Regions from separate parts of the Homo sapiens genome. Here regions 2 and 3 are each linked to region 1. Evidence: fine-mapped expression QTL. A gene starts in region 1. Each other region holds a variant in brackets. All regions are shown on one strand. Distances are between the middles of the regions.

Region 1 (2,768 bases):
CGGCTGAAACTCCGAAACAGCAGAAGCTGAACACACACCACCTGCCCCCTCCCCACTGGCGGCTCTACAGGGAGGAAGCGGCCACCCCCCCGCTGAAGCGCTTGCGCAGATCTAAGCCGCTGCAGCGGCGGCCATCTTGAAGGAGCTGCACAATGGCAGTGACGCAACACAGACCCCCAGGTTATTTCGACATAGCCTTCCAAGACCTGGTTCCCAACAGAGAGAAACAATGAAAAAAAAGTAACCCCCAGGCATCACCTGGCCTATCAGTCAAAAGATCTGTAAATGCAAGTTCTGCACATCATTCCAGTCTTCTTATGCCATAGCCTCTAAAGCGAGGGTTCCTAAAGGGTACGCAAGGATTCCACGCATTTCTGCAGCCCCTGCGGCAGTGTAGGCATTGCGCAGTTTTAATAAAAAAGCACCACCACCACAGTAGGCAAACCAGATGACCATCGCAGGTCACAGGAAAATTAAAGGCTGCGGACTGTGCTACTGCCCCTTCTGATGCCCCCTCCTCTACACAGCAATCATTCAGCGTCCCTTAGTCACTCCGGACAGCGACAGGCCCCGCGGCCGCCATGCCCACCGCCTCCATGCCATGCCCACCGCCGCCATGCCTACCGCCGCCAAAGTCCACCACCGCCATGCCTACCCGCTGCCAATGCCCACCGCCGCCAATACCCACTGTCGCCGCCTTCCCCCTACCTCCCAGCCACTTCCTACGGACTCTCCCCGCGCCGCGACCACCAACACAACCCCCACCACTGTCACACCGACTCATCCCCCTGGTCCACTGCCATAGCCTCCTCGCCTCGGTCACTGCGACGAATTCCCCCCCCAGTCGCCCCACGTACCCTGCTCCACCACGCAGTGGTCACTATTATACACCTACCTGCGCTCAACACCCCCTAAATACCGATCACTTCACGTACCTTCGCCCCGCCACAATCACTCCAATATACCTACCTCCGCCTAAAATCCCTATGCACTGGTCCCCCCACGTACCCTCGCCACACGGAACTGCAATCACCCTGATGTACCCACCTCCACCCATGTCCCTTGCCCACTGCGGTTACCCCGCATGCTCCCAGTCACCACCGCCCTTCCCACCGCAGACACCCGCAATAGGACCTGTCGCGACACCACAGTTGGGGGCGGATGGGGGACGCGCCCCAATGCGAGCGGACAGGATACCATCGGGGCAGAACGGCACAACAGCAAGCCTCTGAACATTCCGGATCTGGTTCTCCAGAACAAAGGACTTTAGGGCCCAAATTCCGTTTATTCAGTACTCCAAGTCCTAAAAACTTGGAATATCTGATGAATAAAAGTGGCCGCTCCCCAGGCTGTCTCTTGAGAGAAGCCACCGGCACAGCTGACCTTGCCCGCTCCATCGCGTCACTGACCGCTCCTCAGACAGATGCGTCAGGCATCTCCGGCGGCCGCTCCACTCTGCGCCAGACTCGCTGCAGCAGCGGCAGGCTTCGCACACATCCCCGCCTGAGCATGCGCGCCAGCCTGCCTCTGCGGCCGCGCAGGCGTGCTTGTTTGCCGCAGTGCAGGGGTCCCAGCTCCCTCCCTCACCGGAATGACCTGGGGGGAGGGGGCTACTGGACCCCTAGGGCCCCACAGCACTGTTGCAATGAGAGGGGGCCTCTAGAAACCATAAGCAACCTGGGATCAATGGACATGTCTACCTGTTTTTTAAAATGTGTAAAATACTAAAGAAATAATTCTTGGTTCTACAATAAATTTTTGCACACACCACTGGCCAAACAATCCTAATTTACACTCACCCTCAGGTCTTCCTATGTGCGGTACAAAAAAGCTGGTTTGGAAAAGTTAAATGCGCCATAACCACAATCAATGCAAATACGCCAGACTTGAAATCCTTCCAAAAGAAAATATCCCTAACTCTAAAAGCATGCTACATTGTTCAAATTTGGTGCGATTTTTCTACCCTTTTTCTACTTTCTACATTTTGAGGGGGTAAATTGTGAAAATTATCTCCCCCAAAATCACAATATAATTAAACTCTCCTATACGGAATGGATAGATCATTCAACTCAAAAACACTGGCTATTCAATTTTTGTAAAACAAAAATATGAACTTAGACCCCCACCTAAGATCTAAGTAGGAGAGCCTTTCTTTGCCTATTAGAATTGGATACATTAAAATTTTTACCAATAATCAATGATAGCTGGAGTGGGGAGAAACAGGCACTTTTATATAATACTAATGGACAAGTAAACATTATTTACGACATAATATTCTATCTGCAGAAATAACGGAAGCATCAGTAACTCCAAAATTTAGACGCTGATGTAGCTTGGGAAAAGACACTGCAGAAAAGAAGAAAATAATCCTGAAACTGCATCTGCATAGTTTTTACACACATTTGCCCTTTCTCAATTGCCCATTATCGAAGAAGGGAGGGTGATGTGAGTGGAGGTTGACTAAATGGTTAAATCCCCTCCCAAGCCCTGTAAGCTACTGCTCAGTTCCCAATGATCCTACATTAAAACAGGTGCGCAGAGGCTTATCAATGCTGACTTCTATCGTAACAAAATCTCAGAAACTGTGTAATGTTCCTCACAGAGAACAGATAGGCTAACTAAATAAACGTATATATAAATAATAACATGCAATATGGCTGATGGAAAAAATGATGTATTAGGCTGAATCATATAAAATTGTCAATATTGAATTGTTTTGACCTACAAAAACATTGCAATTTCTAATAGTTCATTGATACATATTCACA
Region 2 (2,768 bases), 44 kb after region 1:
AGTCAGCTTTTTTGATTCTACCTCTCACCTTACAGAGACACTGGGGTAGTGCTTAGGTTCCCAAGCCCCCAGGGGACCCTGCTGCCATGACTGCTGGAGTCAGCCCATGCCACAGTTCTACAGGTTGTAGTCAGGTGTCTATGTCTATTACAGGTTGGAATACGCACTACCGGATCTACAGGTCTGGGTCTAGGAACTCAGGGGTGGCCCTGTCCCTATGGCTCCACTGAGTATTGCCCTAGTGAGGGCACTCTGTGGTGGCCCCAACCCAATAGTTCTGCTGGACATTGCCCTAGTGGGAACTTTCTATGGCAGCCCTGCCCCTACAGCAGTTCTCTGATTGGGCCCTGAGGCATTCTTCAAGGCTTCCTTGGAAATTAGGTGGAGAAAGCCATGCCTTCACAGCTGTGGATTTAGCATGCCTGCAGTTAGCACCACATGCATGCTGCCCCATGTTTTACTACTTGTGTTTTCTGGAGGAGTGATCTGAGCTGTACCTGGGCCCACCTGAACCACAGATGGGGAAGCTTTGCTTGACTTCAGGGAGCAGATACATGAGGCAGCATAGTCAGTGAGCCCCAAGTTCCCACAGGCATCTTGGGTTGCACTGGAATCCTGGGCTCCTTCCTTAAAATTGTTATTCCCTCAAGGACCTGGCACTTTGGGCCTGTGATGGTTGTGGCATTCTCAGTGCTCTCTGAAATGTCTTCAGGGTCATTCTCCCATTGTCTTAATGAATAGCATCTGGCATTCTAGTCATACTAATCTCCTTATGAAACGGTCAGTTGGCCACACAGTTGGTTTTGTCTCCTGAACTTATTTAAAAAATTCTTTACAAGGCCAGGCTGTTAATTTTCCAAATCTTTATGTTCAACTTCCCTTTAAAAATAATTTTCTTTGGCCCTTTCCAGCACTGACGACCTACCCACAAGAACATGCTTCTTGCAAAGGATCTCCTTCATCCCTCTCCAGAAGAGGAGAAGAGGAAACACAAGAAGAAACACCTGGTGCAGAGCCCCAATTCCTACTTCATGGATGTGAAATGCCCAGGATGCTATAAAATCACCACGGTCTTTAGCCATGTGCCAACAGTGGTTTTGGGTGTTGGCTGCTGCACTTTCCTCTGCCAGCCTACAGGAGGAAAAGCAAGGCTTATGGAAGGATGGTCCTTCAGGAGAAAGCAGCACTAAAAGCACCCTGAATCAAGATGAGTGGGAAACCATCTCAATAAACACATTTTGGATAAAATAATGATAATAATAGTCTTTGGCCAGGTGAGGTGCCTCACGCCTGTAGTTCCAGCACTTTGGGAGGCTGAGGTGGGTGGAACACGAAGTCAGGAGTTCGAGACCAGCCTGGCCAATATG[A/G]TGAAACCCCATCTCTACTAAAAATACAAAAATTAGCCGGGTGTGGTGGCGGGCGCCTGTAATCCCAGCTGCTCAGGAGGCTGAGTCAGGAGAATCACTTGAACCCGGGAGGAGGCAGAGGTTGCAGTGAGCCGAGATCGCACCATTGCACTCCTGCCTGGGCGACAGAGCAAGACTCCATCTCAATGATAATAATAATAATAATTAGCATTTTTTTTTGAGATGGGATCTCACTCTGTTGCCCAGACTGTGGTACGATCATAGCTCACTGCCGCCTCGACCTCCTGTGCTGAAGCAACCCTCCTACCTCAGCCTGCAGAGTAGCTGGGACTACAGGTGTGTGCCACCATGCCCAGCTAATCTGCTTCCCTTTTGATTAGAAGTCCTATCTTTTCTCTTCTCACAGTTTACTATAAGCAGTTAAGAGAAGCTATGCAGTACCCTGAAAACTTGGCTTAGAGATTTCTTCTGCCAAATGTCCTAGTTCATCGCTCTTACATTCTACCCTCCAAAAAACTATTAAGACACAGAAATACTTCCACCAAGTTTGTGGCAGGGCAGGCTCCCATTAGCAACCAGAACAGTCAGTTTCCACTGACCCTCTATTATAATTCTAATGAATGTATAAGTTAAACATTAAAGAACTGGAGAAACAGGTGACTGAGCATGAGGGCTGGAATATTAAAATAAACCCATTAAAATGGGCTTTCTTAGCCTAAAGTCTGGTTGAATAATAAAAGCATTTTACACAGATACCTTGTTCCAGGTACCCACTGAAGATTAAAAAGCTTTCCCCTTCTCCCTGCCCCAGCGCCGCTGTGCCTGCTGGTCTCTGTTGAGCTGTGGACGCGGGTCTCTGTTCTGCAGGATGGGGTTTGTTAAAGTTGTTAAGAATAAGGCCTACTTTAAGAGATACCAAGTGAAATTTAGAAGACGATGATGAGAGGGTAAAACTGATTACGATACTCGGAAACGCTTGGTGATACAGGATAAAAATAAATACAACACACTCAAATACAGGATGATAGTTCGTGTAACAAACAGAGATATCATTTGTCAGATTGCTTATGCCCATATAGAGGGGGATATGATAGTCTGCACAGCATATGCACACGAACTGCCAAAATATGGTGTGAAGGTTGGCCCGACAAATTATGCTGCAGCATATTGTACTGGCCTGCCGCTGGCCCGCAGGCTTCTCAGTAGGTTTGGCATGGACAAGATCTATGAAGGCCAAGTGGAGGTGACTGGCGATGAATACATTGTGGAAAGCATTGATGGTCAGCCAAGTGCCTTTACCTGCTATTTGGATGCAGGCCTTGCCAGAACTACCACTGGCAATAAAGTTTTTGGTGCCCTGAAGGGAGCTGTGGATGGAGGCTTGTCTATCCCTCACAGTAC
Region 3 (2,768 bases), 35 kb before region 1:
TCTAAAATCATTTCTTAAAATGTTTCTACATACTTCAGCAAACTAATTGTTAGCAATATCTATGTACCAAGAAAATGTCATAAAACAATTATTTAGAAACTTCAAACACTGTATCCTCAAATGCACATAAACAAAATGCCTTTTTTTCTAATTAACGCTTCCCATGTCATTTTCTATTACCCTTATGCACTCAAAAAGTGAATACAGAATTGTGTATATCTTTAAAAGGTGACCTGAGAATTCCTTTCTAACAACTGTTCCAGAATAAAATTCTAGCAAATAGAAGCTTCCCCAGGAAACCAGTTATTTAGCCACAGCAACTACATTAACAAGCTTAACAGATTCATGTTCAAAATCTAAGTGTTTGCTTTTAACTAATTACATTCCAAGATTATGCAAAAAAATACAACTATTACACATTTAATTTCACTGTCTGGCTTACCTAAGGCACAATGAACAATTCATACACATTTATCATTCAATGTGTATCTTACATTCTCATTTCAATACTATTATCTAAACATAATTTTCCCACATATTTAAACAAACTCGTAAGCTAAATGTCCACGAAAAAAAGTTTATATTATTTGAATATTTGGAGCTCTTTCACAATGCTAGCAGGAGTTGGGGAATGATGTCCTTATTGCATGTGCACACAAGTATATCATGTGCAGGGCTTTTACTGGTAAATCTTCCAAAGGCGAGTGGACTCTCCATAGCAAGAAAAAAAATATTATTGGTTGATGAAGTTCAGGCAAGTATCAATCTATCTTTCTTTCTTCCAAGGTTTTCTAGCTGATGAGGCATGTAGCTGAATTCAACATGTTATCCTTCCCCTTCTATCCATATATTCCTGCAGGGTTGGCTTGTCAACTTGAGTTTGTACAGACTACCCAAAATATTTCAAGTTTTATATATTTGAAATGTTTCTCAATTCAGTAGATAATTCTTTATGCACCTGCCACGCTGTGACTCAGACGGCATTCTGGGGATGAATCCGGATTGAGAGTTGCTGTTCTGATGTTGTAAGGAGCACACAAATAGAGTAGATCTGGACTATGGCTCTACAGAGGACCCTGGCCAAAGACCCTTTAAGGCAGACATCTCCAAGGGGGGTTAGACTTCCACCGCAATCTAGAAATAAAAATGCTCCAGAAGAATCTGTAAACTACAGTTTTCTCCATGCTGGGGTGGTCACTCAGACTACTCACTCCTGTTGATGTATTTCAGTGAAAAAATGGTTCATAAATCTACCCTAAATCATATGTTGCAATCAGTGTTTGTTGCTGCAAAAATTTCTGAAAATTTTTAAGGATGAGAGGATTAGAGTGAGGGAATGCCACAAAATATACAAATCCAAATGTTTGGTGTCCACAAGTGGGTGGTTTCCAGTGTTTATTGTGGCAAAAGATGTTCTAAATATTATAAACGTATGCAATCGTTGTCCTCTTCCTTGATTATTGCTCATTTCTAAAACTCTTGAAACATGACAACTGCTTATTTATTAAGAAAACCTGA[G/C]AAGGTTTGTCTTGTTTTCCCCAAATCAGCTCTGCCAGATAGATGAACTAAAGAACCTGAGGTTAGCAGCAAGGGGAACAGTTGAAAGTATGTGAATACAGTTAAGATGACAGAGCCCTCACAGGGAAGAGTAACTTCAAATCAGTTCTCTAATGGGGTGAACAGTATCTTTTGTACAGTAAGTTTCTAAAGGAAATAATCCTGGTCCATCTTTTTTAAGCTGCAATTTAGCCCATGAATGAAAGCTGTTTCCTTGCTCCTTAGCTGGCATTTCCTTTATACGTCTCTTCAGAATTGACAGTCGAATGTATCACAGTGATCTTAAAAAGATGTTTCTGAATGTAAATGAGTTTGAAATATTTCACAAATTTACTTTCTGCTTATTTTCTTGTTCAATTATCTGTTCATGATTTGTCCATTTTCAGAACAATTTTTCAAGCCTTTTTGTTCACAGAGTTGTAGATCATATTTATGTACACTACAGGAATCAACAGAGTAAATAACCAATATATTTTGCCAACCCAAATATAATAGATGCATTTACATTTATTTTTATGTTGTGAACTACTCTTAACACACCAACAAGTACACCCTCTTATCCTCTCCAACAGCAATGACCTCTTGATTTCCAACAGGTTTGCTCAAAGGACAAGTTCACGTGAACACATGCTTTTTTTTTTTTAACCTGGAATATTTATTCTCCAGTGAGCTAGCCTGAAGCAGGTGGAGGCATCCAATAAAATACAACCTTAAGGAACTACCTTTTCTATTTTTAACAAACCCCGAGTCAGAAATCTGGCAATATCTTAGGAACCTCTCTACTTGATGAAACAGACAACTTTAATTTAAAGCAAGACAGTATGTCCCAATTCCCTACTCTCAGCTATGTGGTACAATGAAATGCCCTTGTTCTTGACCTAAACCCTAAAAAAGAATGGAGGAAAAAAAATCAGGGTGAAACTGACGGCCATACTTTGCCTGTACTCTACTAGAGGGCAAATTTGTTATACTTTCTTCATTCATATATTGACTCTACCAATGACTGTGGTAACAACATACCAATGAAGCAAAAATTGGCTATCCATCAAACACATACTAGATGTTAATTATTACACTAGGCCTTGAAGACAAAGCAGTAAAAAGTACAGTCAAGGCATCTGATAAACCGTTAATGTTTCTTTCTCCCTATAAGGGAAAAATATCAAAAAAGTCAGTCTATTTAGCCTTTTGGAACCATATTTCCAAATTCT

The links. PIP is the estimated chance that this variant, and not a neighbour inherited with it, causes the effect.
Region 2: its variant is fine-mapped to the expression of SNRPN in monocytes (Fairfax 2014, PIP 0.95). The same link has a PIP of 0.9 or more in monocytes after LPS and monocytes after interferon gamma.
Region 3: its variant is fine-mapped to the expression of SNRPN in whole blood (TOPMed, PIP above 0.99).

Annotation. Positions count from the first base shown.
Region 1 is chr15:24,953,678-24,956,445 of GRCh38, reverse strand. It overlaps SNRPN (small nuclear ribonucleoprotein polypeptide N), which reads right to left and starts at 1,459. Exons shown (of 10, transcript NM_003097.6): 1 at 1,384-1,459. It overlaps SNURF (SNRPN upstream open reading frame), which reads right to left and starts at 1,459. Exons shown (of 3, transcript NM_001394334.1): 1 at 1,384-1,459. The coding sequence starts at 1,397. All of the region lies in intron 4 of SNHG14 (small nucleolar RNA host gene 14), which reads right to left. RefSeq lists enhancers at 1-88, 1-478, 479-1,044.
Region 2 is chr15:24,909,293-24,912,060 of GRCh38, reverse strand. The region is part of intron 3 of SNHG14 (small nucleolar RNA host gene 14); the gene reads right to left. It also overlaps a transcript of SNRPN not described here, the pseudogene RPL5P1 and the pseudogene RPS27P2. Among named protein-coding and RNA genes, the nearest start is that of SNRPN, 44 kb to the left of the region's middle. The variant A/G (reference allele first, on the strand shown) is at 1,368.
Region 3 is chr15:24,988,930-24,991,697 of GRCh38, reverse strand. The region is part of intron 15 of SNHG14 (small nucleolar RNA host gene 14); the gene reads right to left. Among named protein-coding and RNA genes, the nearest start is that of SNORD108, 3.4 kb to the right of the region's middle. The variant G/C (reference allele first, on the strand shown) is at 1,519.